Homo sapiens: one gene and its partners. The protein of the gene in region 3 interacts with the protein of the main gene of each other region in a pairwise test. Each region holds a gene or a part of one and is shown on either strand. Other genes may lie near its edges. The genes, in order: PLAAT2, TRIM2, UBAC1 and MGAT3.

What was found.
Region 1: the proteins of UBAC1 (region 3) and PLAAT2 interact in binary tests that used the Homo sapiens proteins (3 or more experiments, as listed by UniProt).
Region 2: the proteins of UBAC1 (region 3) and TRIM2 interact in binary tests that used the Homo sapiens proteins (3 or more experiments, as listed by UniProt).
Region 4: the proteins of UBAC1 (region 3) and MGAT3 interact in binary tests that used the Homo sapiens proteins (3 or more experiments, as listed by UniProt).

The regions. Positions count from the first base shown.
Region 1 is NC_000011.10:63,559,659-63,568,524, reverse strand, and holds the start of PLAAT2 (phospholipase A and acyltransferase 2), read left to right. Parts: upstream 1-5,145; 5' UTR 5,146-5,200; coding exon 5,201-5,209; intron 5,210-8,331; coding exon 8,332-8,440; intron 8,441-8,866. UniProt on the Homo sapiens protein: Exhibits both phospholipase A1/2 and acyltransferase activities. Shows phospholipase A1 (PLA1) and A2 (PLA2) activity, catalyzing the calcium-independent release of fatty acids from the sn-1 or sn-2 position of glycerophospholipids.
Region 2 is NC_000004.12:153,290,682-153,298,713, reverse strand, and holds part of TRIM2 (tripartite motif-containing protein 2), read right to left. Parts: exon of another isoform or gene 7,901-8,032; coding exon of another isoform or gene 7,808-7,900; exon of another isoform or gene 7,076-7,807; intron 5,733-7,075; coding exon 5,581-5,732; intron 4,410-5,580; coding exon 4,229-4,409; intron 3,402-4,228; coding exon 2,678-3,401; intron 1-2,677. UniProt on the Homo sapiens protein: UBE2D1-dependent E3 ubiquitin-protein ligase that mediates the ubiquitination of NEFL and of phosphorylated BCL2L11. Plays a neuroprotective function. May play a role in neuronal rapid ischemic tolerance.
Region 3 is NC_000009.12:135,932,004-135,937,940, forward strand, and holds the end of UBAC1 (ubiquitin-associated domain-containing protein 1), read right to left. Parts: intron 1,513-5,937; coding exon 1,397-1,512; 3' UTR 966-1,396; downstream 1-965.
Region 4 is NC_000022.11:39,452,134-39,460,590, reverse strand, and holds the start of MGAT3 (beta-1,4-mannosyl-glycoprotein 4-beta-N-acetylglucosaminyltransferase), read right to left. Parts: upstream 3,580-8,457; 5' UTR 3,034-3,579; intron 1-3,033. UniProt on the Homo sapiens protein: It is involved in the regulation of the biosynthesis and biological function of glycoprotein oligosaccharides.

The DNA of each region.
Region 1 (8,866 bases), on a different chromosome or scaffold from region 3:
GTATTTTTAGTAGAGATGGGGTTTCACTATGTGGGTCAGGATGGTCTTGATCTCTTGACCTCGTGATCCGCCTGCCTCGGCCTCCCAAAGTGCTGGGATTACAGGCGTGAGCCACCGCACCCGGCCAATCTGGTGGTTTTATAAGAATCTGGCATTTCCCCTGCTTGCACTCACTCCATCCTGCTGCCCTGTGAAGAAGGTGCCTGCTTCTCCTTTGCCTTCTGTCATGACTGTAAGTTTCCTGAGGCCCCCCAGCAATGTGGAAGTGTGGGTCAATTAAACCTCTTTCCTTTATAAATTACCCAGTCTTGGGTATTTCTTCATAGCAGTGTGAGAATGGACTATATACAACCTCCAGTGATTGTTGACAGGAGTCAGGATAAGTAAACTGTGGCACATTCCCATTTGCCACATGGGAGTACCATGCAAATGAATGAATAGCTATGGCCAATCAACATGGGTATGAAACCTAATATTGAACCAAAAATATTGTTATGGAATGCTTGATGTTTGATTCTACTTTTACAAACTTTAAAAATTATAAACTAAATGTATATTGTTAAGGATTACATTTATATATTATTAAGGGATGTGTTTATAAAAAAATTTAAAAATCAATAGGACAATAGAGACAAAATTCAGGAGAGTGGCTACAACTGCATTAGGAGGAAGAGGAACACAGGGTTAATTTTTTTGGTAATAGCTTCACTGAGGTATAATTTACATACTGTTGACGGTGATTGTGAGACCTCTGTTCTTGTCTTCTTGGTTAAAATAATTTTAACAAGAGACACAACCATAGAGGAACAACAGAAAGCAATGTATTGCAAAAGAGAAAGAACACTCTGAAAGCTGAGTGTAAAAAGAAACAGCTGAAAGTAATTTAGTGCAAAGATAAAACTCTGAAAGATACACTCTGAAAGGTACACTCTGAAAGATAAGTCAGAGTGGGCTGATCAAGAGTGAGTCAGCAAAGACTGGCTCTGAGGGAACTCCCTTTATGAGAGTCTTATGTGATTATTCATAGTGGGTGGGAAGAGGTGTGTTCCTAGTAATCATGTTCTGGGTGGTCCTCTGGGTGCACATGAGCAGTTGCTGTACATGCTTGTTCATACATTGCATGTCTCATTGCCGTCTTAAATCTCTACCCAGGGGTGTGTTTTTTACTATTATAATGAGCAAAGGGTCATTCTGAGGACAAGCAAAGTGAAAATGCACATGCTCTCTACAGGGGAAAGTCCCCAGTGAAGGTAGTTCTGCTTGGATGAGCTTGATTACAATGTGAGTGCTGAGGTTTGTTGTGTTGTTGGTGCGGTTGCTATGTCCCAATGAACATGGTTACAGGGCTCATTGTGCTGTTGACAGTGTGGTTGCCATGTCCCAAGGACGTGGTCATCTCCTTGACTATCTATCCTGCCTCAGTACCATATAGTTCACTTACTAAAGTATATAATTCGATGCCCTTTAGCATGTTCACAGTCATGAAACTATTACCACAATCAACTTTAAAACCTTCTCATCACCTAAAAAGAAACACAACCTGAATCCCCTAGCCCTTCCATCCCTAAATAATCATTACAATCATGAATTTGCTTTATGTCTCTGTGTGTTTTCCCATTCTTGACAGTTCAAATAAATGGAATCATATACTATATGGCTTTTGTGACCAGCTTCTTTCACTTATCATGTTTTCAAGCTTCCTCTATATTTTAGCATGTATCAGTACTTCCTTTTTATGGCTGAATAATATCACATCATACGAATATACCACATTTCGTCATTTATTCGTCAGTTGATGAACACTTGGGTGTCACCTTTTGGCAATTATGAATAATGCTGAGTATTAGTCAGGGTTCTTCAGAGAAACAGAACCAATGGGAGGTTATCTATCCATCAAGATTTCTTTTTTTTTTTTTTTTGAGATGGAGTCTCGCTCTGTCACCTCTGCTGGAGTGCAGTGGCGCCATCTTGGCTCACTTCAAGCCCCGCCTCCCGGGTTCATGCAGTTCTCCTGCCTCAGCTTCCGGAGTAGGTGGGACTACAGGTGCCCACCACCACGCCCAGCTAATTGTTTTTTTTTGTATTTTTTAGTAGAGACGGGGTTTCACCGAGTTAGCCAGGATGGTCTCAATCTCCTGACCTCGTGATCCGCCCGCCTCGGCCTCCCAAAGTGCTGGGATTACAGGCGTGAGCCACCATGCCCGGCCCCATCAAGATTTCTTACAAAAAATTAGCTGCTGCAGCAATCACAGAGGCTGAGAAGTCCCACCATCTGCTGTTTGCAGGCTAGAGACCCTGGAGACTCAGGAAAGGCAGTGGTATCATTCCGTCTGCGTCAAAAGACCTGGGAATCCAGGGAGCCGATAGAGTAAATCCCAGTATGAGGGCAGAAGATGAGGTGAGCTATCTCAACACAAGTAGTGAGGCAGACGAAAAGGGGACGAATTTCTCATTCCTCTAGCTTTGTTCTAATCAAGCCCTCAACAGATTGATGCTCCCCACTCACATAAGGGAGGGTCATCTGCTTCACCCATTCCACCAATTCAAATGCTGATCTCATCTGGAAGCACCTCAACAGACATGCCCAGACATCACACAGCATCTGGGCACCCCATGGCCCTGTCGGATTGACACAACAAATTAACCACCACGGCTGCTATGAACATCTGTGGACAGGTTTTTGTGGGACACAGGGCTTATTTAAGAAATTGGTTATTTTCTATTTCTTCAACTAGGTTTATTGGTACCTGTTTTGTTATTATTTCTAGTGTTTTATACTTATGTTGCAATTATTCTTCTATATGGATATAAGATTTAATAAAATCCTTTATTTATTTATTTATTTATTTCTGAGACATAGTCTCACTCTGTAACCCAGGCTGGAGGGCAGTGGCGTGATCTTGGCTCACTGCAACCTCTGCATCCCAGGTTCAATAGATTCTCCTGCCTCAGCTTCCCGAGCAGCTGGACTACAGGCGTGCGCCACCAAGCCCAGCTAATTTTTGTATTTTTAGTAGAGACGGGGTTTTGCCATGTTGGCTAGGCTGGTCTCGAACTTCTGACCCAAGTGATTCACCCACCTTGGCCTCCAAAAGTGCTGGGATTACAGGCATCAGCCACTGTGCCCGGCCAAAGCCCATTAAAATTATATGTAGCCCAAGATATTCCTGGCATGTACATAGAAAGATAACATTGCCTCTAGAAAGGGGAACTGGGTTGCTGGAGGCTGGAGGCTGGAGGTGGGGAGAATGGAGGCTTATCTTTCCTTTTATAGCCTTTTATACAATTAAACAAACATAGAGAGCGTGCATGTGAACAAAAATGTAAGTATTCCAGGCTGTAGGCCTAGAGCTTACCAGCAGGCTGGGTGTGGCCTGCCCTACCCTGTTCTCTGTCAGTAGAACTTTGTCACCTTTCCTGCTCAGCATGAACAGTAGGGAGACAGCAGAATTCTCATTCCACTGGCCCTTGATTTGCAGACTCTCCTTTCCTATAGCTCCTGGACATAATTTCCTGACACTCTGAACAGCTTGGATTCGGTGAAAAGCCACAAGCCCCAGCATGAGTACAGTGATGTTCCTCCCCAACTCCGCCCTGCATGGTCTGGTTGGTCATTGTGCCAACCCACCTGAGATCCTTTCAGCAGACAGCACGTGGAAGTCCTCCTGCCCCAGGAAACAGGGGTGTGATGTGGTTGCAAGGGGAGGGCAGGCATAGGAAGAACTGAGATTGCTGGACTGGAGGTCAGCCCCTAAAAAGATGATCAGCAAGCCTGAGTGGGACCGGCCCAGAGGTCTCTGGACAATGGGGCAGGAGATAATTAGCCAAGCCAACCCTACTGTCTCCCTCCAGAAGGAATACTTTGAAGATTGTCCCACTGCAACTCAGAGGAGAATGGAGTGGAGGTGCTGAGAGAGGCCGTCTCCATGGGAGCAAGACCACATGACCACGTGAGCTGAGGGAGTAGCTGGTCATGCAGAACTGCTGTGGCTCCCAAAGAGTTTTCCAGTTCTGGCTCCAGTCCATCTGCATCCCCACACTAAAGCTCTTTGTTTGTTTGTTTGTTTATAGCCTGAAGAGGGTAAGTTATTGGTCCTCGCCCCCATGCCCCACAGTGAGGATGCTCAGCTCCCCCCAGCCCCACCCACCCCTTCCTGTCCAGTTTGCTCAGGACCGGACAACTATATGTAGATGACAGAAGAGATACTTATTTGGAGCTTGGGTGAGATAAGCATGCAGGTGCCTCAAAGAAGCAACCTCTACACACCCAGTACTGGGTTTTGGTTTCCATTTGGTGTGGAATGAGTGTTTCTGAACTGTGGGTGAGAGGCAGAAAGGGGAGTGGTTTCTATACTGCTGTCCAAGCAGGCTCACTCTGTTTCCAGGGTAGAGGAATGTGCCTCCAATAATACGATTTTTCTAGGGCCATGGGGTTTGAGGTTGGTGGAAATGTTTGCCTGTCCCGGCAACCATCATTCCCAATTTGGAGGCATGAATCTCAGTCTCTCTGGGGCTCCTCTCTCCTTTTTGAAATTTTCCCCCATGGTCTCTGTCTCTATATCCTCCCTTGCCCCCACAACCACTGGATCTTGCTTGTTCCACCTGAAACTTGGTGATTGTCAGCTGTGCCCCTGACCACACTGCCACTAAGTCCTTCTCAATCTATATCCTGAGCTCTGATTCCTCTTCTGTCTGGCTGATTTTCATGCCGCCTTGCCTACTTGATATGTGCTCTGCCCCTGTTTGAAGACAGGGAAAATTTTACATGAACCTTGATCTATGTTCTGTTTTTTTTTTTTTTTTTTTTTTGACTGAGTCTCGCCCTGCCGCCCAGGCTAGAGTGCAGTGGCACGACCTCTGCTCGCTGCAAGGTCTGCCTACTGGGTTGACGCCATTTCCTGCCTCGGCCTCTGGAGTAGCTGGGACTACAGGTGCCCACCACCATGCCCAGCTAATTTTTTCTATTTTTTAGGAGAGACGGGGTTTCACCGTGTTAGTCAGGATGGTCTCGATCTCCTGACCTTGTGATCCTCCCGCCTCAGCCTCTCAAAGTGCTGGGATTACAGGTGTGAGCCACCGCACCCAGCCTATGTTCTGAAATAGTTGTATATGGGCTGGGTCACAGGGAAAGTGAAACTCAGAGCTAATTTAAGGCTGGACACAGAGTCAGCAACACACAAGACATCATCTTGAAGGAAGGATGGCTTTGGTAAGTCCCCAGAAACGGTTTTAAAGCTTTGATTTGAGGAACAACCACCCTATTAGTGATGATTATGTGTATTCTTGTTGGTCTACAGCTCTGGCATGGAGGGCACATGGGCACATGCTGAGTTCTGGGGGTCTGGCTCTCTCAGACACTGTGGGAAGGAACCACGGTGCTGGGTTATGACCCTGGAGGCTCCCCAGCCTCAGCTGCCGCATGGGGTCTGGTTCTACTGTGGCCAAAGTTTGCGTTTATGCTTTTCCAAGCCCTCCTCTGGCCAAACTACCAGTGGCTCTGCTAAGCCTCCTGAAGGCAGGAATGGTGGGCTCAGGGAGAGCAGCCCTTGGTTTACCCCACAGGCCGCCTCCTCTGTCACATCATCCTCAGTGGGAGGGATTAGCTGGGGAGGGAGGGTCCAGGGAAAGGGCTCCAGCTGTGTGGGTGGCAATGGGGGCTGTCAGAAAGGGCTCTGTCTCCCTCGCCTCCAGGCAGGGCCAGTCCCTCTACTTTCCCTCCTTCCCTCCAATTCCTTCTTAGTTTCCTTCTTCCTTTAGACCCAATAGCAGCCACATTTCCCAAGTGCTCAGGGGTCCAGACACCATGCTAAACACTTCTTTTATTTAATCCACACCAGGTAGTTAATAAGCAATCCTATGAAGTAGGCATAATTACTGCCAACTTCATGGATAGGAGGAATGATATACTGGTAAGTATAGAGAGGGGGCTGCCCAAAAGTCAGAGAGGGAATTCGAACTTAGGAGGCTCTGACTCTAAAGCTTCGACTTAAAAAAGAAAGAATGTATTTAATTCCAGGAGAAATACGTGAACACATTCACTTTGTCTGAAAAACCGAAACTCTAGCCTGGGCAACATAGTGAGATCCCATCCCTACAAAAAATATTAAAATTAGCCAAGGATAATGGTATGTGCTTATAGTCCTAGCTTCTTGGGAGGCTGAGGTGGGAGGATCACTTGAGCTGGGGAGGCTGAGGCTTCCTGCAGTGAGCTGTGATAGTGCCACTGCACTCCAGCCTGGGTGACAAAATGAGATCATGTCTCAAAAAAAGCCAAAAGCCAAAAACCAAAACTATTAGCATAAAAACTAATGTCCCCTTTGACCATCCTTCCCATCTGTACAGCCTTTCCCCTCTGTACAACCTGGTGCGTATTCTTCCAAATATTTTTCTGTTTTTGCATACATATATGGCTACCTTACAAGTATTGGTTTGTAGCTTTGGGGTTTGTTGTAGTTTTAAATTGCATTCCGTGAGGACAATTCAGTTAGGAAATGCTTGAATCTTTTCCTTTATTTACCAGCTTTTGGAATAATAGGGTGATTCTTTTCCATCCTCCAAAGATGCCTAGTGTTTTTAAAAAATATCCTTATGAACACGTGGGTTTTAACATATTTGATGTGTTTCAGTTTGTGTACAGTTATTTTTATTATTTTTTTTTGATGCTCAAATTGTCCCTTATTTGGTCAAGTTGACTCTTGACCCCTCTAGTCAAAGGCTTTACTTTTTTTTAAATTTCGAGGTTCTGGGGGGGAACATGTGGTATTTGGTTACATAAATTAGTTTTTAGTGGTGATGTCTGAGATTTTGGTGTACCTATCATCTCAGCAGTGTACTCGGTACCCAATGCGTAGTCTTTTTTTTTTTTTTTTTTTTTTTTTTTGTGATGGAGTCTCACTCTATCGCCCAGGCTGGAGTGCAGTGGCACGATCTCTGCTCACTGCAACCCCTGCCTCCCGGGTTCAAGCAATTCTCATGCCTCAGCCTCCCAAGTGGGTGGGATTACAGGCACCTGCCACTATACCCAGCTAATTTTAGTATTTTTAGTAGAGATGGGGGTTTCACCATGTTGGCCAGGCTGGTCTCAAACTTCTGACCTCAGGCAATCCACCCATCTCGGCCTCCTGAAATGCTGGGATTATAGGCGTGAGCCACCACACCCAGCCCCAGTGTGTAGTCGTTTATTCCTCACCCACTCCCACCCTTTTCCCTCAGTCTTCAGAGTCCGTTGTATGATTCTTATGCCTTTGCGTCCTCATAGCTTAGCTCCCACTTACGAGTGAGAACATAGGATGTTTGATTTTCCATTACTGAGTTATTTCACTTAGAATAATGATCTCCAATTCCATCCAAATTACTTCAAATGAAAGGCTTTACTTTTAACTATAGCTCCCCACCAGACTTTGAGTTGGCTGGCACTCTCACCACCCTCGGCAGCAGTTCAACTCCTTTGTGGCTTGGCTCAGCTGAGATAGGGGGAGGAGGGGTGCTGGCTGGCACCAGAGCATACCGGAAACAGAATTTATGTGGCAAGGGCTGTCTCCCATTCTGGGTGTGGCCAGGGCAACATTCCTCGCACCCATGCACCCTCCAGAGGGGCACTGCCCTACCACCAACTCCAAACACACCCTGCCATCCCTTGCTTTAATTTTAGCCTGAGCTCAGACTTCAGCTGCCCTGGGCTTGCCTAGGACATTCTGGGATGGTTAAAGGCATTAATGTTGGAAACATTCAGCCCTACCCTTCATTCCTGCTCTTCTACTTATTAGGCAAGTTACCTAACGTTCCTGAGACTCCATGTGCTCATTGTCAAGTGGGGGTAATGATAGTTTTCACCCAAAGGAGTGGTGTGTAATGTGGGTCAAGTGTCCGCCTGCCTCTGACATGTTGGGCGTTGCAAGTCAGACCTCTAGAACTTGTAGGAATCACTTGGGCCCAGGCTCATGGCAGGTGGCCCTTAAAGAGGCATTTTAGGCTTCCTTCGGAATCATGCAGTCACTAGCTGACAAAAACATACTCTGTGCATAAAATGCACTCACACTCAGCCTGGGCACATCACTCCATCACACTCCTGTGCTGCACATGCATGAAAATCTCCCTCAAAGATACTCTCTTCATCTCCTCCTTGTCCCCTGAAGAGCAACTTTTCAGTCCTGCAGCCCCAGTAAATGAAGGTGCTTCCTACATATGTGAGGAGTGCTCCCTCCTTCCTGTTTCCTGCAGGTGATGAGCACAGGGAATCTGCAGGCTGAGCTGGGGCTCCTTGCAGGTCAGGCCCTAGAATGTTTCCTGCAGATGGCTCACCTCTGCCTGTTTCTGGTTTTTCTGTTGCAGGCCAGACCAAGACCGAGACTTGGAGACCTGATTGAGATTTCTCGCTTTGGCTATGCACACTGGGCCATCTACGTGGGAGATGGCTATGTGGTCCATCTGGCTCCGGCAAGTAAGGATGGGTTCTCTTTTTAAGCACAAGGGTTAAGATCAAGAATGTGAAGAGATGCACAGTTACGTGCTTGTCCTCACTTCAGGGTCTAGCAGAGTAGGCACTCAATACATAATGCTGAATGAATTGTGCTTTTTCCTGCTAGATGTAGCAACTGCTATTCTTCTTTTGCAGTAAATTGGTGGAGAGACTATTGACCTTTATTCCATTATAGAGTGGGGTTCAGTCTGAACCAACTCACTGTACTTGGTGAGCATCCCTCCGTGGGATCTCCTATGTATTTGTTGTTATGGAGGTACAAGCAAGAGTAAGAAGCAGTTGCTTCCTTCAGATAGCGTACAACTGAGCACATAGTATAACGGAAGGAGCATGTGGGCCTCCCAACTCAACAGAACCAGTTTGGAATTGTGGCTCCTCTGCTTACAG
Region 2 (8,032 bases), on a different chromosome or scaffold from region 3:
TTGCTGAAAGAGTGGATTGTAAGTGTTCTCTATAAAAAAATTGATCAATATGTGAGGTAATGCATATGTTAGCCTGATTTAGCCATTCAATAAGGTATGCATATATCAAAACATCATGTTGTACACCATGAATATATACATATTTGGAGATTAGGTCTTTGAAGGGGTGATTAAATTAAAATGAGGCTGTTAAAGCGGGGCCCTAATTCAGTATGATTGGTGTTCTTATAAGAAGAGGAAGAGACAATAGGGGCTGAGCCACAAAGAGATGACTATGTGAGGACAAAGAGGCAAGAAGGTGGCCATCTGCAAGGACAGAGGCCTCAGAGGAAACCCACCCTCCCAGCACCTGGATTTTGGACTTCTAACTCTAAAACAGTTCCAGTTTTTCAGAACTGTGAGAAAATAAATGTCTATCATTTAAGTCACTCAGACTGTGGAATTTTGTTATGGCAGCCTTAGCAAACTAAGACAGCATCTTTACTTCATTGATAAACTCAGACATCGTGCTGCATGCCAGGCACTGTTCTAAGTTCTTCACAAATGTTTACACATTTCAACACCTTTCCAGCAGTGCCAATACATCACTATGGCTGCATTTCTCAGTAGGTACGAGGGGAGAAGATATACCCCCTTGTCCCTGGGGTGGGATCTGGAGAATCAAAACCAATATAGTTTGAGCACAGGAAACTCCTGAAAGACATGTCTCTTTCCTCAAGTGGGTATCAGAGGTGATGATGATTATGATGATGATGATGATGAATAACAAGAGTAAAATCTTAGCTACCATTAATTGAGCTCTTGCTGTACACAGGCACATGCCACGTATATTACAAGAATTCTCTCATTTCACCCCCAACAGCAACCTTAAGATTTAGGTAATATTTCATTCCCTTTGTTTTACAGAGGAGAAAACACTGTTCAAAAAGGGTAAGTAAGCCAGTTGCCCAGCTGGTGAGAAGAATCAAGATTCCAACCCAGATCTGCCCAATTCCAGTTCTGAGTCTTTCACTGCACATGGCCTAGGGGAGTAGACTGGGGTCACTTGGTGGGAGGTGTGGGGGATGGAGGTTTAAATGGGAAAATGAATTTGTTCGTAATGCAAGAGATCAGTGGGGAGCCAGCAGGTTTTTTGAAAAGAAAAGGTAGTAGGGATAATCTAAAAGCCTTAACAATTACATGTACAAAAACAATAGCTCTCATTCATTTAGCTCCTCCTACATGTCAGGCATTCAGCTTGGAACTTAGAATAGTTCTGATAAGCAGATATTTTTGCATTTTCATTTCATGGACATAGAAGTTGAAGTACAGGGAAGCTGAAAGATTTGCCCAAGGCTCAAGTAAGTGGCTGAACCGGAGTGGCAGACCTGGGCGCCTCCCAGTCCTGCATCCACCCAAGCTCGTCCACTCTGCTCTGGTGGAGAATCAACAACCCCTGCACCCATATCGCACATCTGGCCGTGAATGTATGAGGGCTTCCATGCTCTGAACAGACAAGTTACATATCATATCACCGTCTTTGCGAAGATTCAGCCTGAAGCATTAACATTGAGCAGCTCTGCCCAAGAACGTTCCACAGAGCCTTCATTTCCCAAGACGTTCCAGGGAAAAAGTTCTATGGTTGGAAGTTTGGATGTGCTGCCTGTTATCTATCCCTCTCCTGCCTCAGAGACCTACAATGTACATCAGCAGATTCTAAAGGTTTTAAGAAGTTCTGCAATTTAAAAAAGTCCACTTCCTTCATTTAGCCTAAGGTTTCCCAAATTTATCTGAACCATAGAATTGTTTTTCTACATGTGCCAGCTAATATACAGTGCAGCACTCTTTCAGAGATACTGCATTGTTAAATGGAAGAGGGAGGAAAAGAAGTCTGCTGGAGCTACTTTTTGAAGCTAACTAAAATGCAGACTTTTCTCCCTTAAGAATCATCAAGCCCTTTGCTGTTTACATTTAGTTGCTTTCTACTGAGAACATAGAAAGTTTAAAAAGAGAGAGACCATAAATCAGAGGAGGGAAGGGCTATTTGCATTCCTAACTCTCTTGGCTCATCGGGTACCTTCTTGCTTCCACCCCAACCCCGCCTCAACCCCATTCTTTCTCCAAGTTTCCACCCCTCCTCCTCTCCTTGGGGCTGCTCTCCAGCTACACACAGCTGGAGGTGGTTGCAACTTGCAATGCACACATCCCCTCCCTCCTGCAATGCCGATGCAGTGACAGGGAGGCATCACATGCTCTGCCAACCGTACAGCCTCAGCTCTGGCACAAGAAGACCCTCCCAGGGAAGAGGGGCGTTGGTGGTGGGGGTTAGGGGGAGGATTGCCAATTTTTCCTTCAAGATTTTCAGATTACGGGTGCTATGATTTTTCTATTTCTCTTTTTGCTTATTTTCAGCTTGTAATTTCCTACAATGAATATGCAGCACTTGTGTCTTAAGGAAGAGGAAGAAGAGAAAGGAGGGAGTAGGGAGGAGACTAGAGGCGGAGGAGAAGGAAATACCATCTCTGGAGGAGACTGCATAAGCTCGACTAACAAAATATATCAAATTTTATAGCAGTACATCTCCTAACACCTGCAGGTAGAGTTCTGGGCTGCAGTGTTGCTATTTGCAATGACACGTGCCCAGTTACCCCTTAACCAGTGCCAGCTCAGGCGTCGGGCACAGAAGCCCTCTCCTTACCCACTCGAAAGATCAAATCGTCTTCGATGGGATTCTCTTTTCGTTTTCCAGTGCTGTACATGCTTGCGGGTCTTTTCACAGCTTTCTGCTTGACGTGGCCGCTCCCCGGGGACTTAACGCGCCTCTTCACGCCTTCTGTGGTGGGAGACACATCAGCGGATCGGATCACTTTCAGCTTAAACGGGCTGCCTCGGATGTGCTGGTCATAGAGTCTCAGAGACAGGGTAAAGTCCCCTTCCTTCTGGACAGTGTACAAAAACTCATAGGTGCCGTTCTTGTTGTCCAGGATCTCCCCGTCTGCCACGCTCCCGTCGGGGGTGCTCAGTTCGGCGGTGAGGTAGGCGTTGCCGGTTTTGCACAGCTCACCGTCTTTGTCCTTGGTGGTGATGGTGACGGACATGGGCTGCCCGATGATGGTCTGCCGCAGCCCCTCGCCCGTGGCCACTGTCTCTGAGGCAACGGCGTTGGTGGTTAAGATCGTCCCGAGGTTGTGGATGGACTTCTTCAGCCCCTCGGTTTCCACGATGAAATCCAGCTGGTCGTTCTCCCGCGGGTGCAAGGGGAAGTCCTGGTCGGCCAGCTCGTTCAGCTTCTCGCTCATCTGCTTCTTCACCAGTAGGACCTCGGTCTCCGTGCCATGGTTGAGGGCCTGCGCTGTGAAGTTGCTGCAGCTCTTAATGCTCTCCTGCCCCTGGAGCAGAGTATCCAGCTGCGACTGGAGGACCTGCGGGAAAACCGGAGGCCTGGTGAGCTCGTCCCACAGGGCGGGGCCTAGCCCGGGGCAGTGCCCTCCACCGGCGAGAAGGAGACTCTACACCTGCCCACGCAGGTGGCTCTGAGCAAGCGGTGTTTGTCAACCCAGGGAACCCAGTGCTAACGCAAAGTCCTAAACTGCATTCCCAGTACCTTTTCGAGGTTTCCCTTCCGCCTCGCCCTCTCTTCCACACATGTATTTCTTGGCTCATGTGTTTTGGAGAGGGGAAAACAGAAAGGTCACTACCAAGAGCATAGCAAATTAATTGCTATGCCTGACATCTGAAATATTCATTATTCAGTATCTTTCCCCATGTCCCCATGTCCATCACCACCTAAAGGAACAGGAAGTAAACAAATGAAAACTCTCCACACCTGAACATCAGAGGTTTCTCATCCCTGTTTTGTGAACAGACATGCAGAGTTAAACAAAGGCTGCAGTCAGGGTTCATTTTGAAGCTGACTAACAGGTTGGTGTGGGTGAGAGAGCAATTAAGAAACTATTTCATGTTATAACTGAGGAATGAAAACAATCCAGTTTAACTCTAAATGCTAAAAGCATTACATTATATTCAACCTTGCCTCTTGTCAAATTATAAACTAGTACTTAAAGTCACAGAGTCATCGAATTTTGCTGAAAATAGGGGAAAAAATAGCTGGATATTACATTCAGTGAAAACTATAGTTTACTATACAATGATGACACTTAAGGACCCCTTGTTGCTATTAGGAAACAATAAGCTAGTGCCCTTGGATATCATGTCTCTTCCAGGACATCTGTAATGATTCTGGTCTTACTTTGTGTTTGAGGCCATAGTTGACCTCCAATTCCATAAGCAGCACACTCTTGCGCACATTTAAAGTCTTCTGGAGCTCATCAAAGGTGGAATGAATGTCATCCACGATGCTGGCCTTTTGGTTGGTTAACTGATGAATGATTTCAGAGATGAACTGAAGAGCAGAATCTATTTCTGGGAGCCTGGTGGACAGTTGTTAAAGGTCGTTATTTAACCTCAACCCAGAAATATTCCAAAATCTATCTAAACACTACATTTTGTTTAAAAAAATTCTATGCCTTTCATCATCTTTAAAAAAACAATAACCAGAGAACAGAATAAGATATGACATAATTACTGCCTTAGAGAGAAGAGATTTTGTCTCTTCAGAGACAATCAAAATTGTCAATTTCAATCTACCATCAATTGTCCAATTTTAATAATTAATTAAGTGTATAGACTTGAAGCTCTCTGAAAAGCCATTCTGGCCAGGTTAATTCTTCGTTGCAGGGGCCGTCTGGTGCATTGTATGATGTTTAACAGCAGCCTGTCCTCTACCAGATACCAATAGCTCTCCCCGCCCTGCCTCCCTCTCCCCAACCCCCTGCCAAAACACACAGTTGTGATACCAAAAATGTCTCCAGGCATTGCCGAATGGCTGAGAACCACTATTCTAGATAGCTGTATCTTTTACCCTAGCCACATAAAACATTTATCCAAACCCAGTTTCTTGAGAACTTCTCGTAAGTTTCCAAGTTCTTTGAATTACTATAGAACAACCACACTTTTCTCACTACAGCTATCAGTGGAGAGATTTATTTTGTCTGCTTTTCTGCTGGCTTCTCATTTCCTCTCTTTGGTCTTTTTCATGCACCACTCAGCTACTCTGTTCTTTCATTTCTGTGCCAAAGAAGGAACTTGGAAGCAGGAAAACAAGGAAAATTAGCAATCACTGCTCAAGACCATTTTGCAGAGCTCAGACAGAAAGGAGCCAATCACAGCCAACAAAATGGCCTGTATGTGTGTCAGGAACAGCAGATAAGGAAGGCTCCTCAGAGAGCCTGGTTTCAGGGATGAATTTCAGAACTCTCCTGAGAGCAGTTTATTTGAGTGTACTTTAATTCATGTAATCATACTTAGGTACTAAAACAAAAATGCCACTCATAAGGAGGCTGGAGTTCTACCAACAGGCAGAAGACAACCTTCCTCACTCATTAGTTTATGACAACAAATCCATGATAAAAGAACTTATTTACCCACAAAGCCTGATATCTCAAGGGAAATATGAACCTACTCTTGTACCTAGACAAGAGGCCATGAGGCCAGGCCTCAAGTACAGGCAGCCAGTTGGGGGTTTGGGGAGGGGTCCCCCACCTTTTGTTGACAGCATCCAGCTGGACCTGGAGCGAGGCCTTGTGCTGTTCCACCACATCCTTGAGTGGAACTGTGGGGTGCTCTGCGTGCTCCCCCTCCGTGCACTCCCGACACATGGCAGTCTCACAGGACTGGCAGTAAAATTCCATCACCTGTGGATGACACAAGAAAAGTTCCTGGTTCTGGGCCATGGGTTGAGGGCTTACTCTACACTAAGCACTTGCCTTGCAGTCTCTCATAATTAAATGAGAGCCACCCCAGAATGTCAGCATTATTAAGTCCAGCTTCACAGGAGAAAAGGAAGGACACATTTTTATGTGACAGGTCTCAGAAATGGAGCTGACTTCTAAGCTGCTTCTATAACCATAAAACCAGCTTTTGGGTATCCACTGCCCCAAGGCAGTACAGTATAGGGCTGTGGTGCTCAAACATTTTTATATCAGGACCCCGTTATAATCTTTAAAAATTATTGAGGACTCCAAAAGAGCTTTCGTGTATGTGGGTTATATTTATAGATATTTCTTATATTAAAAATTGAAACTAGGCTGGGTGCAGTGGCGTATGCCTATAATCCCAGCACTTTGGGAGGCCAAGGCTGGAGGATTACTCGAGGCCAGGAGTTAAGACCAGCCTGGGAAACATAGCGAGACTCTGTCTCTACAAAAAATTTTAAAATTAGTATTTAATCAAATTTTTAAAAATTAGAACGGATAAAAATTTTAAAGTATTTAATTTATTAAAAGCAGTAATAAGCCCATTAAATGTTAATGTGAATAATGTAATTTATGAAAATAAATATATTGTGAAAAACAAAAAAATTTGTGGGAAAAATGGTATTGTTTTCCATTTTTGTAAATATCTGCAGCGTCTGGCTTAACAGAAGATGGCTGGAGACTTGTATCCACTTCTGCATTGAGTCCATTGTGATAGCATACATCACATAGCCTGTGGAAAATTCCACTGTGCACTCTTGAGAGAACGAGAGTGAAAAAAGCAAATAATGTCTTCATATGATTATGAATATAGTATTGACCTTGAAGACTGCTTGAAAACGTCTTGGGACCCACAAGGGTTCCTGGACCACACTTTGAGAACTGCTACTGTTTGGCTAAGAGACTTATCCAAATAAGAAGTCTGGACTGAGCAGTTTGTCTCCTGGCTTCACCACTTATTTAGCTGAATGACCTTGGACAAATTTTCAGCCTCACTGTGTCACAACTTCTGTCTCTGTCAAATGGAGATAGTAACAGTAACCTACTTCACAGGGCTACTATGAAGAATAAGTAGGTTAGTATGCACGAAGAACTCAGATGGCACCTGGCTTTGGTACATAATAAGTTCTTAATATGTAGTAGCTGCTGTGGGGATGATGATGATGATGATGATGACATCATCTGCTTACCTGAAAATAAAAAAATATGACCCTGACAATGACGAACTTTCAGTAACAATATAATATAAAGCCAGAAAATTAGCTTCCTTGCAGAGGTATTACCTTGTTTTCTCAGCTGGAAATAATGTCTTCCAGTTTTCAATTCCCAAAGCACTTTTAGGAGGAACTTTTTCTTGACATATAACACAATACAGAAAAGGGCATAAATCTTAATGCAGCTTGATGGATTTTCACAAAGTGAAGGCAGTCACCAAATCACTTTTATTTATACCCAATTTATGAAATAAAAGATTTTAAATTCCTAAGCCCAGGAACTCTCCCACCCAGAGCCTAGATAATACCATACATTTAGTAGGTATTCAATAACACTACTGAATGAATAAATGAGAGGAGGCTCTTAGCCATGATTCGGGTGGCATGTGTAAGACCAACCAAGGGACACCTCCTTCCTCATTAAGACTCACTATGTTACATAGTGCTTTCTGGAGAAGATTCTCCTAGGAATAAAGCACTCAGCTTGCTCATACTACATGTGTTTTGGAAAAAACCTTTTCTGGTGAACCAAATTCAGATAAAAGTCATTCAAACCATGTCCAAGATAATTTTAAATTTCATATTTATCATAGTTTCAAGTAGGTACATAGTAAGAGGTTTAGAAAGACACTTTTTTTTTGTCATATAAAGACACTTTTTTTTTTGTCATATAAGGCTGTAATTTCATGTACTTTGCTCCTCTGCAGGCCTTTTAGGAATAGGCTTGAAACATTAACTGGAAATTTCTTGTATGCATTCTCTGCTCAAAAACATTTCTCAGCTGGGTGCAGTGGCTCACACCTGTAATCCCAGCACTTTGGAAGGCCAAGGTGGGAGGATCACTTGAGGCCAGGGGTTTGAGACCAGCCGGGGAACCACAGCAAAGCTCTGTCTCTAGAAAAAAATTTAAAAAATTAACTGGACGTGGTGGCACATGCCTGTAGTCCCAGCTACTTGGGAGGCTGAGGTGGGAGGATTGCTTGAGCTTCGGAGTTCGAGGTTGCAGTGAGCCATGATTGTGCCACT
Region 3 (5,937 bases):
AGGGCCTGTGGCCTGGCAGCAGGGTAGTAGACAGGCATCTTTTTTTTTTTTGAGACTCCGTCTCAAAAAGAAGTGAGATTCGCTACTTTTTTTTTTTTTTTTGAGACGGAGTCTTGCTCTGTCGCCCAGGCTGGAGTGCAGTGGCGCGATCTTGGCTCACTGCAAGCTCCGCCTCCCGAATTCACACCGTTCTCCTGCCTCAGTCTCCCAAGTAGCTGGGACTACAGGCACCCGCCACCACACCCGGCTAATTTTTTGTATTTTTAGTAGAGACGGGGTTTCACCGTGTTAGCCAGGATGATCTTGATCTCCTGACCTCGTGATCCGCCTGCCTCGGTCCCCCAAAGTGCTGGGATTACAGGTGTGAGCCACCGCGCCCGGCCGAGATTCATTACTTTTGAAAAGCATTTTTAATATTTCTGCCCAAAGAGTTTAAATTAACTTTAGTTTTAAATCTAAATCTCAAAAACAATGAAAAGACCTAGATGTGTGGAGAGAAACATTTTCCGAAAACATTCTTACTCAGCTACAATGCAAGCAGAGTTCAGAAGGGGAGGGGGCTGGTTCAGAAGAGAAGTTCAAAACAAACAGCTCGGAACTGACTGCTTCCAGCAACAATAATGAGCAGAGTTCACAAAAAACAAAATAAATTCATTTTCTCATTTTAAGACACCGGTCATGTTTTTTAAAATGAAAAAAAAGGAGGAAGAGGCCAGAGGTAGGCGGAGGCAGCCGTGCTTGGGCTCAGGACCTGTGTCCCAGGAATACGGGCTCAGCTCCAGTCCCTTAAACCCAATACAACACGAGGCTTTGCCAACCAAACATGGCCACAAGGCCTCCCACATGCTGCGGTGGCCCCGGTGCCCGCCCCGGGTCAGAGCAGCCGGCACGGAGCCGCGGGGATGTGGCCTCTCGGGGACGCACGGGTTTCTTGTGCGGCACCAAGAAAAGACGAAGACAGGAAATAGGAAAAGGGACTTTATTAAAGAAAAGTCATCTGTGAGTGACTAGTTAAATTAGCATGCTTGACATTAACTCTGGGTTGAAACCTACCTCCGTCAAATAACAAGTGGACTCTCCAAGCAAATGTCTACACGGCAATTCAAGCAGCAACTCAAGAGCCCAGAGGAGCACTGGAGACGAGGCCATCACTCCACTTCCCAGTGCGACAACCACTTTTTTGTAAACACCTGTCAGATGCTAAAAATACGGCCTTACACACTACCGTCACCAAAGTTTATAAGCAATAAGATCAGAGAGCAGGAGCAGCTGCAGCACCTCTAACAGTCCAGGGCTGAGGCGCTGAAGGTGAGTTTCCAGGTGAGGTCCACTCTGCCCGGTCTCGGGCCGCACCAGGGGGCTGCTGTGGCCTGATAGCCGAGTGGAACAACGCCACCTACGTGCGATTTAGTGTCTGGAAGATTCTAGAGATCTGCAGCATGACAGGCCCCGTTTCTGGATCATTCATCCACTGGGTGCTGTTCAGTGGGTTCTCCAGCATGTCTTCAAATGCTGCAGGGAAAACAGAGCCAGCCTGAGTGCCCACGCCCCCACTCAGCCCACAGGCACAGGCGTGACTTTCCTCTTCGGCAGCTTCCTAATGAAGAGGGTGCGTCTCCAATACAAAGGCCACACAGAGCTCACTGCTAAGTGTGCACTCTCAGGCTGAAACCCACCCAACTCCATCGGATGCACCCATCAAATCAGATCTGATCACAGAGAGTCATGCACTCAATTCTGGCAGGTGGGCAGTGTGCCTGTGCGTGCTCATGGCACCCCCACTCTCGGCAGCTGTCTGGCAGCCGCCAGGGCTCAAAAATCATCTTCCCCAACAACTCCACTTCCAATCCCACCCCGAGAAGGTCAGCAGATGCAGAAAGGACACACACAGACACTGTTGCAAAGTTAACAACAAACTGGAAAAACGTAATGCTCAGCCTTCAGAAAATTCCTTCTTCAAAAAACCAGCACATTAAAAATGCAACACAGCACTTCTTCAAAATGAAAACTTGGGTTTTAACAGCTTTACAAAACTGTTTCCCCAAAACAGGTGGCTTTTAGCAAAAAGCTCTCTGTTCCACCCACTGTGAAGGAGCACGCGTTCTGCCAGCCCCTCTGCCAGGATCGATGGCTCCATGCTGACCTGACACACATGGACGCACTTCAGCATAAGTGGCCCCAGGTCTACAGGCTCCAGGGACAGTGCTCACTACAGAATTCACAGCCATTCACGGCCCAGTAGCCCATGGCTGAGCACAGAGCTCAGAGTGAACCCAACTTGGCTCTGTTCATGATTGGACAATCCCCAGGCCTTAAAACAATCCTCTGGTGTTCTGATTAAAAGTCTCCAAAAACCACTTTAAAATCTCAGAAAAAGCCAGGCACGGTGGCTCATGCCTGTAATTCCAACACTTTGGGAGGCCGAAGCAGGCGGATCATGAGGTCAGGAGATCGAGACCATCCTGGCTAATACGGTAAAACCCTGTCTCTACTAAAAATATAAAAAATTAGCTGGGCGTGGTGGCAGGCGCCTATAATCCCAGCTACTCGGAAGGCTGAGGCAGGAGAATAGCATGAACCAGGGAGGCGGAGCTGGCAGTGAGCCGAGATTGCGCCACTGCACTCCAGCCTGGGCAGCAGAGTGAGACTCCGTCTCAAAAAATAAAAATAAAAATCCCAGAAAAAGACTCAGAAAGAACAAACTATAAGGTGCGAAACAGCTGTTTCACACACAGGGCGGGGAACTTAATTTCCCATTTCCTCTCAATAAACAGCAAAATAAATTCTGGAAGGATGAAAGAGTTGAACAAAAAGATAAAGAGTTAAATATGAAAAACCACACAGATGATTATTTATCTGAGGAAGGACTTTCCTTTTTGAATTTAATTTTTTTTTGAGACAGCGACTTGCTTTGTTGCCCAGGCTGGAGTGCAGTGGAGTGATCATGGCTCACTGCAGCCTTGAACTCCCAGACTCAATGATCCTCCCACCTCAGTCCCCTGAGTAGCAGGGACTACAGGTACGTGTGCCACCACTCCTGGCTGATTTTGTTTTTTTGTTTGTTTGCTTTTTTAGTAGAGAGGAGGTCCTGCTATGTTACCCAGGCTGGTCTCGAACTCCTGAGCTCAAGTGATCCTCTTGCCTCAACCTCCCAAAGTGCTACAATTACAGGCATGAGCCACCATGCCCAACCTGAGGAAGGACTGTCTTCTGTATATCCTAACTTCTGTATGTCAGAAAATGCCACACAAAATTAGAGAGCAAAAACAGTTTACAACATTCAACAAAGGAAGATGTGCCTAATATCCAAGAAGCTATTAAGGAAGCTCTAGGATTAATATTGCAATTGAAAAACACATGTGCCAGGCACAATGGCTCTCGCCTACAATCCCAGCACTCTAGAAGGCAGAGGTGGGGGGAGCGCTTGAAGCCAGGAGTTCAAGACTAGCCTGAGCAAAAAAACGAGACCCCATCTCAACAACAACAAAAAAAATAGCTGGGCATGGTCGTGCATGCCTGTAGTCATAACTACCCATGAGGATGACTTGAGCCCAGGAGGTCAAGGCTGCAGTAAGCTGTGATTGTACCACTGCACTCCAGCCTGGGTGACAGATCAAGACCCTGTCTCCATAAAAAGAAGGAAAACAAATAGATGACACGCATAGACAGTATGTAAAAGAAGAAATGCAATGGCCAACAGAAAAGTATTCAACATTGCTAATAACCAAAAGGAATGCAAGTGGCCAGGCGCAGTAGCTCAAGCCTGTAATCCCAGCACTTTGGGAGGCCGAGACGGGCGGATCACGAGGTCAGGAGATCAAGACCATCCTGGCTAACACGGTGAAACCCTGTCTCTACTAAAAATACAAAAAATTAGCCGGGCACGGTGGCGGGCACCTGTAGTCCCAGCTACTCAGGAGGCTGAGGCAGGAGAATGGCGTGAACCCGGTAGGCGGAGCTTGCAGTGAGCTGAGATCGTGCCACTGCACTCCAGCCTGGGTGACAGAGCGAGATTCCATCTCAAAAAAAAAAAAAAAAAGAGGAATACAAGTTAAAACAATGAAGGTCTTGTCTATAATATGGAGGTGGGCAAGTGTGTGTGCTGGGGGCAGATCTTGCATGGACAGTGGCGCCATCACTGCACTCTAGCCTGGGTGACAGAGAAAGAGCCTATTTCTATTAGGAAAAAAAAAAGAAAAAGTTATTGGACAGACCCCAAGGCAGCACACACTAACATCCTAAGGTATACAAACAGCTGGAGAGCTAGGAGGAATATGCTTTCAGTGTGAAAGGAATCACTAAGAATAAAAATAAACTCACAAAAGACCATTCTCAAGTTTTAGAATTTGGGTACAAAGAAGATCCCTACCTCACACCACACACATACTTCTAGGTAGATTATGGACTTAAATTAAGAGAAACTTTTAACATTTTTGGAAAAAAAAATAAAAGGAAAACGTGTTTCTGACTTTCGGATAGGAGGGTTTTCCTTTTTCTTTTTTTTTTTTTTGAGGTGGAGTCTTGCTCTGACGCCCAGGCTAGAGTGCAGTGGCACGATCTCGGCTCACTGCAACCTCCGCCCCCCAGGTTTAAGCAATTCTCTGCCTCAGCTCCAGAGTAGCTGGGATTACAGGTGCATACCACCATGCCCAACTAATTTTTTGTATTTTTAGTAAAGACAGCGTTTCACCATCTTGGCCAGGCTGGTCTTGAACTCCTGACCTCGTGATCCACCTGCCTCAGCCTCCCAAAGTGCTGGGATTACAGGCGTGAGCCACCACGCCCAGCCATGGAGGGTTTTCTTTAAAGGTTCACATCTTAAAAAAAATACAGACACACTGAAGGACATCAAAACACGGGATTCTGCCCATCAGTGTGAGGAAATAAACCAGAAACTGAACAACGGCATCTGCAACACAAATAATGGGAAAAGGGTCAGCATCCAGGAGGTGAGGACCTTTCTGAATGAATAAGAAAACAATCCAAGAGAAAAGCAGGCCAAACGCTGAGCGGAAGGTCTCTCACAGCCAAGGTTCTACAGGCGGCCAATACGCTTCTGAAAGAAGGCCAGCCTTCAAGATCAGGGCACGGCCATCGCAGCTCCAGAGACACTTCCAGCCTGCTCGGGTGGCAAAGGCCCTCCCAACATCCAGGAACTCAGCTCCTGGGGACCAACAGGTCTGTAATCCCAGCACTTAGGGAGGCTGAGGCAGGTGGATCACGAGGTCAGGAGTTCGAGACCAGCCTGGCAAACATGGTGAAAGCCGTCTCTACTAAAATACGAAAAATTAGCCAGGCGTGGTAGTGCACGCCTGTAATCCCAGGTACTCAGGAGGCTGAGGCAGGAGAATTGCTTGAACCTGGGAGGCGGAGGTTGCAGTGGGCCGAGATCATGCCATTGCACTCCAGCCTGGGTGACAAGGCGAGACTCTGTCTCAAAAAAAAAAAAAAAAAAAAATCAGGAGTGGCACCACATGTAGACAACCCAACGAGCCCTGGGTTCCCAGTGCCTTCCATCAAGAAAATACTCCACAACCCCCACAAAGAACGCAGTCAGTCACAGAGGCCTGCTTAAAACATGATTCTACTTACACAAAGGCAGCAGCAAATGAGAGATTGTTTAAGGAGACACAAATACGGCAAAACTCTACCGGGAAGCAGAGAGGTAAGCCGCGGCCACGGCGACGGCCACACCGGAGGGAGGGATGAGGTGCATAGGGGAGGGGCACCCCAGGCCCAAAGCTGAATAGTAGATACATGGCTATTAGTTTTATTCTTCTTTAAAGTTACATCATCATATACACTTTTGTATGTACGTATCTCACAATAAAAATAAACCATTGCCATCGAAGACCCTGACGAGTAGTAAGAGCAAAAGCCCAAACCACACCTTGTCCTCCCGTGAGTTCCTAAGCTGCTGGCGCAGTCTCCACCCCG
Region 4 (8,457 bases), on a different chromosome or scaffold from region 3:
CCTGACCTCAGGTGATCCACCCACCTCGGCCTCCCAAACTGTTGGGATTACAGGCATGGGCCACCACGCCTCGCCTCAGCGCCATTTTAGACACAAGAAAACTGAGGCACAGAGATGCAGAGTCACCAGCCCACAGTCACACAGTGAGAGAGGCAGGGCCGGGATTTGAACCGGGCCACTAGATCTGGAATCCCTACTTTTAGTGACTCTTTCCTTGCCCCCAAGCAGCCAGCACAGGGCTAGGTGGAGCATCGGTGCCAGGGGTATCTGCTCCCCAATGGATTCTAATCTCCTCAGGGCAAGGCCTATGTCCTCTCTGTCCAGCACAGTAAATTATTACCCCTACCTGAGGACACTGTGTTCCAAGACCTGGTCCCCACATGAAGGGCTTGGAGATGGCTAAGATGAGGGGCTGCATCACTGCACTCTGGGGAGCAAAGGGGCTCTGGCTCTTGGGGAGCACAGCAGGATACCCTGAATGACTTGGCTGGGCGGGTGGGTGCCCATGAGGCCAAGAGGGGCTGTCTTTGCAGACCACCCTGCCTCTGGCCACTCCTCACTGCTTATGTAGTCTTCCCAGAATTGCATGAGGACCACGCAGTTCCCCCACCCTCAGCTCTCTGCCGTTCACGTCCAGCCCAGCCCTCTCGTGATTCTCATGGCCGCTGCCCAGTGAAGCTGGCCTGGCCCGCCAGCTGGCATCGGCATCCTCGTTTTCCAGGTAATAATACCGCAGCCAGCGATCTCTTGAGTGCTGCTCAGGTGCCAGGCACCCTGTGTGCATCCTCTCATTCAACCCTCTCTGCAACTCATTCCATTCAAAATTCTCCCCCATTTGATCACACCTGGAATCCGAGCACTTTGGGACATAGAGGCAGGAGGATCACTTGAGCCCAGGAGTTCAAGACCAGCCTGGCCAACATAGCAAAACCTCATCTCTATTAAAAACTTTTTAAAAAATTAGCAGGGTGTGTTGGCTCACGCCTGTAGTCCTAGCTACCCAGGAGGTTGGGGCAGAAGGATCCCTTGAGCCCAGGAGGTTGGGGCTGCTGTGACCTATGATCACACCACTGCACTCCAGCTTGGATCACAGAGTGAGACCCTGTCTCAAAACAAAAACAAAAACAAAACCTCCCCATTTCACAGATGTGGAAACCGAGGCTCAGAAAGCTGACTTCCTGAGGTGGTCCAGTTACTACAGAAAAAGAAATCATCAGGGTTGGGCGAGGTGGCTCACGCCTGTAATCCCAGCACTTTAGGAGGCCAAGGTGGGTGGATCACTTGAGGTCAGGAGTTCGAGACCAGCCTGGCCAACCTGGTGAAACCCCATCTCTACTAAAAATACAAAAATTAGCCGGGTGTGGTGTCGGGCACCTGTGGTCCCAGCTACTCGGGAGGCCGAGGTGGGACAATTGCTTGAACCCAGGAGGTAGAGGTTGCAGTGAGCCAGGATGGCACCACTGCACTCCAGCCTGGGCGACAGAGTGAGGCTCCATCTCAAAAAAAAAAAAAAAAAAAGAAAAGAAAAGAAAAGAAAAAGGAATCACCAGTGTGCCTCAAGTAGCCCTGACCACACCAAGGGCACCAGGCAGACCCTTAGAATGGGTCTGAGCCAGCGGCATCCCCCCAGCCAGGTCTTGGCTCCCTGCCGTCCTCAGGACCAAGTGCCAGCTCCCTGCTGTGCCCTCCCACCTCACCTCCACCTGGCCTCCCTGCCCAGCCTCTGCCCCGTTTTCATCTCACTTCTTCCAGGGGGCACCCACAGTGCCTGACTGTTCCCACTGCCACCTCTCAACACACGCCAGACACTCACACCTCTGAGCCTTTGCTCATGCCATTCCCTTGGCCCACAACGCCCTTCCCACCTTTCTCTACCCAGAGATCTCTGGCAGCTTCCTGTCGTCATCTCTTCCAGTAACCTCTCTCTTCCTCCTGGGCTGGGACCCCTCTTTCAAACCTTCCTAGGACCCAGAGCGGCTCCCCTTAGCACTCCTTAGACTGAAAACCCCCTCAGAGCTGCAGCTCCTGGGGGTGGGGGCTCTCCCCTCCATCCTTCTGCTGGGCTCCATGTCTGGATCTTTCATAACTGCTCCCCCTCCCCAAACGACACGCCAGTGCTCACAACTCCCCCATCAAGGCGAATCTGGACTGGTGTGTCCCAGGAATGAAGTGGGGAACCAGGGAGGAATCCCACTGGGGTAGTGTGTCTGCCCACACCCCATCAGGGGCCTTCAGGGGCATCTTCCGGGGCTGGGGGTCATCCGACCTCAGACCACTAGGTCTGGCCGCGCGGCATCCCTTCCTGCTGCACCCCAGCTCAGGAACCCCACCATACACACACCCAGGCGCACTCCCCTCCCCACTCCCGGTTCCAGAACTCACTATTTGCAGATATTTATAGCGCCCTCCCTCAGCCAGGTTCCCTCCCCCGCCCTGGGCAGAGCAATGCAAGGAGCCGGGGGCCCCCACCCCGGTAAATGGCCGGGGGCCCTCTCCACATTTGCCTCTGCCTGGTCCCCAGGGGTAGCTACGGCCGCAGCCCCCGCACCCGCCCAGCCCCCGACTGCGCTTGGGCCTCGGCTGCCGCCGCCGCAGTCTGGGGTCGGGGGTGGGGAAGGCGGGCGCGGAGGCCTCCCACCCCAGCCCCGCGCCGCGCCGGAGGTTGTGGGGGAGCCGCGCCGGAGGCTGGGGGGTGCCGCGCACAAAGCACGGCTCGAGCCCCGCGCCTCGGGGACGTCCCCCGCCCGGCCGTGGGAGGGGGTCGGGCGCTGAGGCTCTGCCCTCCGGGGACCGGGGAGCTCGGAGGAGCGGCGGGTAGGGGGAGGGGGCCCGCGCCGAGCGGCTTCCCCGGCATCCCGCCCCCACCGCGGCCTCCGGGCCCCCAGCCCCAGTGCGCCCGCGCCCGCCCCCTAAGGTCACGCTCGGGGAGTGGGCCGCGGAGCCGGGCGGGGGGCGCCAAGCGCAGCGCGGGAGGGCGGGCAGCGCGGGGATAGAGGGGCCGCGGCGCCCCCCAGGACGCCGGGGTCAACTCACCCATCGCCCGCTGGGTCTCAGCAACGGCGGCAGCAGCGGCGGCGGCGGCTCCGCGGCCCCCGGGGTCCCCGGCGGGGAGATGCTGGCGTCCGCCGCAGCCTCTCGCCCCATCCCGGGCTCCGGCGGCAGCGGCTGCGGCGGGCGCCCGGCATCGCAGGCAGCGCGGCCCCGGCCCGGCCCCGATCCCCTCCCCCCACCCCCACTTCCACCCCGTCCCGGGGACCCGGCGCGGCCGCTCGGCTGCACCCCGGGGCGGCGGCGGGGGCCCGGCGAGCGGACGGGCGCGGGGGAGGGACCGCGGCGGGCGCGCGGGGGGCGCGGAGGCGAGGCCGAGCGCGGCGCGCAGGGGTGCCCGCTCCCGCCGGCTCAAGCGGCTCCGGCCCCCACCCCGCCCCCTCCGCAACCCCCTCCCCTCCCCCGCCAGCCGGGCTCCGCCGCCGCGCCGGGCCGGGGGCGCCTCGCACCGCAGACTCCGGCCGCCGCCGCCCCGCGCCGCCCGCGCGTGCTGGATCGAGTGTGTGCGTGTGCGAGCGAGTGTGTGTGAGTGCGAGTGTGCGCGCGCCCCTCCTGTGACCGTGCGTGCGCCGGCCCACGGCCCGGGGCGGCCTGCGCGGGGGCGTGTGCGGGGAATGCGGGTAGTTCGGAGTGCGGGCCTGGTGTGCGTGCGGGGCAGCAAGTCCCGTTCTGTGTATGCGTGGACGGGTGCGTTCCGCAGCGTGCCCGGGTCGGTGTGACTCCGTGTGCCCGAGTCTGTGCCTGTGTGTGCATGGACGTGCAGATCCGTGTTGCGGTGTGTGCGTGGATGCGCCTGTGCCCGCGTGAACCTGGGCCGGGATTTCGCATAGGCATCTGTGACCATGTGCAGAGGCCTGGGCCTGTGATGTGTGCACGGTGCCGGGCCTGTTACGGTGTCTGCAGAGTCTGTGTGTCTGCTTGGGGCGTGGGTGACCGCTGTACACCGGCCTGTGTCCTTCCGTCCGACCCCCTCCGTCCCTCACATGCCCGAAGCCACCTGCGCACTCCTGGGGTAACTGGGGGGGCCTCCCCTCCCCCGCCCCCCTCACCCGGCCACCCTAGGCCCGGTCGGCCCTGCCAACCCTCTTGAGCCTACTCTCCTGCCACTTGCCCACCAGCGGTTCTCCGAGGGCCCACCGTGTCGTGCCCTGGCTCCTCGTGGCCTTGCTCTAGGCCATTCCTCTCAGGGCTCAGAGGCGTCCCCCACGTGTTTCCCGCCTTTCAAGTGGTTCCGTTCTGGGGCCTACAGAGCAGCCACTTCCTCCCGCGGTGCGAGGCACAAGGCATTGTGGGTACGCAGCAGACATCTCTGCGCCGCCATCGTCGAAGGTGCAGGGATGCGCTACCTATTCTATATCCCAGCGAATGTGCTCCAGAATAGTCCCAGAGGCCTTTGCTGAACCATCCGGGCTGCCTAGGGCTGGTCTACCTGCTCCAGGTGCCTCCGTGCCCAGCTTCATCCATCCTTGCTGAGGAGGCAGAGTGATCCTACTCCAACATTCACTTGAGCAGGTCACTCTCCTGCCTGCACCTTCAATGGCTCCCACTTGCCCTCAGCTTAAGTTCAGTGCCTGGGCGGGGCACAGGGAGCCCCTGGTGACCTAGTCTTGCCCCCTTCTTCAACGTCACCCTCACTGCTCTTTTCTTCCTGGAGGCTCTCTCTAAGCAAGGGTGGGCAAACCATTTGCTTTAAGAGATTGATTGTAAATCTTTTAGGCTTTGCCAGCCATATGGTCTCTGTCCCAACTACTCAACTCTGCCATCGTAGCATAAAATCAACCATAGACAATACGTAAAAGAATGAGCCTGGCGGTGTTCCAATAAAACTTTATGGACACAAAAATTTGAATTTCGTGTCATTTTCACGTGTCCAGAAACATTTTTTGATGTTTTCCCAACCATTTGAAAGTGTAAGATCCATTCCTAGTTCCTATCACTCTAAGCACATTCCATTATAACATCTCCATGGGCCGGGCATGGTGGCTCATGCCTGTAATCCCAGCACTTTGGGAGGTTGAGGCAGGTGGATCAGAAGGTCAGGAGTTCAAGACCAGCCTGACAACATGATGAAACCCCATCTCTACTAAAAATACAAAAATTAGCCGGGTGTGGTGGCACACGCCTGTAATCCCAGCTACTCGGGAGGCTGAGGCAGGAGAATTGCTTGAACCCAGGAGGCGGAGGTTGCAGTGAGCCGAGATCATGCCACTACACTCCAGCCTGGGCAACAGAGCAAGACTCCATCTCAAAAAAAAAATAAATCATCTCCATGACATGTGCTTAAGGTAATTGTCACTCCCCCAAAATCCAGTCTATTCTGCCCTGCAAAAATGTTGCCCTCCTCCTCTCCCCAGCCTGGCTGTTCAACCCTCTCTGCCCCTTCTTCTCCGGCCCCCAAAGAACCTTCAATTTCTGCTCAAATGTGTCCCCCTCCCCCAATTCCCCATGCCACAGCTCTCCCTGCCTGGGACTCATTCCCCTCTGGAAGGGACCGCCTCACAGACACTTTCCTTCCCCAGAACCTTCTCTCCCTCCCTGAGCCTTCAGCAGCAACTCTGGGCGTCCCTCAGCCCATGAAAGAAGTGCTGTTTCAAGTCTGGATTCTCCATTGAACTCGTTCTGAGCATCAAGAAAACCTTGACATTGGCCCCCAAGCACGAAGGCAGGCACAAAATAATCACATTCCTCCATTTCCATTGCTCCTGGCAAAGGGGAGGAGGACCTGCCCAAGCCCCAGCCCCTGCCCTTGAGGCCCAGTGAGAAGTAAAGACACGCCCCACTCCCCAGGGAAGCTGCCCTGCCCAGAGCTGGCCAGGGTCAGGGGACTTGCTTGCTCTCCATCTTCCCCCAGCTTGGGTCTTTGTTCTCCTGACCTTTCCAGATTCCCAAGCTTCTTGGGAGGCCGAAGTGGAGTCAGCCTTGTTGGGTTCATACCAAAGTCCGCCTCCATGTCCTCAATGCGGCACTCAGTGTGTTGGGCGCTGTGTGGCAAGTACATCTTCCCCACGCCCAGCCTGTCAGAGATAAGTAACTTGCTCGGTCACACAGCCACAGCTGGGCACACCAGGCCCCACCCTCCACCCTCCCAGCTCAGGCCCTGTGGTGCCAGAAGCCTCCCTCCCAGAGAGCTGGCCAGAAGGGTAAACATCCCCCAATTCCTTCCTCCCACATGGCCCCTGTCACTCTTTTCCCCTCCCACATTCACAGAGGCCTGGCACACAGTAGGCACGGAGGTGCTCAGCAGGTGGAGAAGCTGAATCCCAGGGAGCTTAAGACCTGGGTTCTATGCCAGCTCGCCAAGTGTTCCAGTCATTTCAATCCCTAAGCCTCAGTATCTTCATCTGCAGAATGGGACGAATCACTGCCCTGACATCGCATTGACATCAATGGAATCTGGTTCTCTCCATCCTCTCCCAGCCGTCCTCCAGGCCCCACGATGACGTGGGGGAGGCTGGGGCTCCAAGCTCCATGGTGATATGGGGGAGGGTGGTTGGTGGCCCTCTTGCCCCACTGCTCCTCTAGGGGCTGAGCTGCCTGACAAGGAGGCTGTGGGAGCTGGAGGTGGGAAAAGCCCAGATACAAGATTAGCCAATCTCAGGCGGTGTCTCCTTACAGCCCTGCTGTCCCCTTTCACCCAGGCCTTTTTGGCTCTGGGAACAATTGCTAGGTCTGTTACCCTTTCAGCAGCTGCTGCCTGGCCTGTGGGAGCCGCATTCCACCTCCCTGGGGCATCTCACTCCTGGCCCTGGGTCTCCAGGTGGGGAGGCTCCTCACCCATGCCATGAAAACCAAGCCACAGGCCAGGCGCAATGGCTCACGCCTGTAATCCCAGCACTTTGAGAGGCCAAGGTAGGCGGATTACTTGAGGCCAGGAGTTTGAGACCAGCTTGGCCAACATGGTGAAACCCCATCTCTACTAAAAATACAAAAATTAGCCGGCCGTGGTAGCACATGCCTGTAGTCCCAGCTACTGGGAAGGCTGAGGCACAAGAATCCCTTGAACTCGGGAGGTGGAGGTTGCAGCGAGCTAGGACCGCACCGCTACACTCCAGCCTGAGCAACAGAGTGAGACCCTATCAAAAAAGAAAAAGAAAAAGAAAGAAAGAAAGAAAGAGAGAACCAAGCCATCAAGCCCCAGCCCTGCCAAGGCTCCAGGTGGTCAGGGAGCATGGCGGTGCAGTGGGCAGAGTGAGCTGGCTCCGGTCGGGGCCCTCCGAGCTGCGCCAGGGCTCCACACTCAAAGCCTAGGCCCATTGGTCTGCAGAGTGGGCATAAAGGTGGCCACCTGACAGCGTGTGGGGAGGGTGAGGGAGGTGGGATGTGTGACAAGGTGGTGCTGGGCAGCACCGAAGGTGTTTGATAAAGGGTCCTTTGAGAAATTAAAATGAAATCCCAAGCCCCCCAACAGCCCCCCGTCTTGGCCAAGGGAACCCCAGAGAAACCTTGAAAGCTGAGTGCTTGGCTACAACAGAATGGGAGGTCAGACACTCCTCGATACAGCCCCTCCTGAACCCCTTCCTTAGGGAAGAAAGCCTGCTGACGGTTAGGGCTAGCCAGAAACCAGCCCTTTTGAAAGACTTCACCACTGATACCAACCAGCTGTCCGATGCTATCCCTCTTTTGCAGTTTTGACACAATAACTGACCATCATCCCTTCCTGATAAGAAACCATTGTCCAGACAGTCTAAAGTGGACGCCCAGTGAAGGTGTTCGTCAGAGATAAGTGACTTGCTCAGTCGCACACAGCCAGCCCTGGGCACAGCCGGGCACAGCCAGGCACACCAGGCCCCACCCTCCACCCTCTACCCTCCCAGCTCAGGCCCTGTGGTGCCAGGAGCCTGCCTGAGAGCTGGCCAGAAGGGGACACAGCCCCCAATTCCTTCCTCCCACATAGCCCCTGTCACTCTTTTCCCCTCCCGCATTCACAGAGGCCTGGCACACAGTAGGGTCCTGTGCTTCACCTTTTGACATCAGAGGGCTGAAAAACACCCTGCGATCACACTAACGCCACCATTTTTTTGCATGTGTGACTCACTAAGGGGCATGAAGCTTAATTGCACAGGTCCCTGTTTCTCCTTACATCAATATTCATGACTCCCCCTATAGCTTATTAAATATGTATATTCAGCCACCCTGCTCTGTATAAATTCCTGTTCCCTTTGCCCCTCCCTTGAAGCATGTGTTCCTGGCTTCTGGCTGGAAGCTATGCTTCCCAGCCTGTCAGAATGGCTGCCCTGCAGGCTGCAACCCTTTATGAGAAATAAAGCTCTCCTTTCCAAATTTGTGAAACTCATTGTTCTTCTGTTGGCGACTTCCTTCCCCAACACTGGCCAGGTGAAGTCAGATCTGTCCCCTTTCTACCCTCCCCCACATACACTCCATTCAGCTGAGCTTGTCCCATCCACTGGC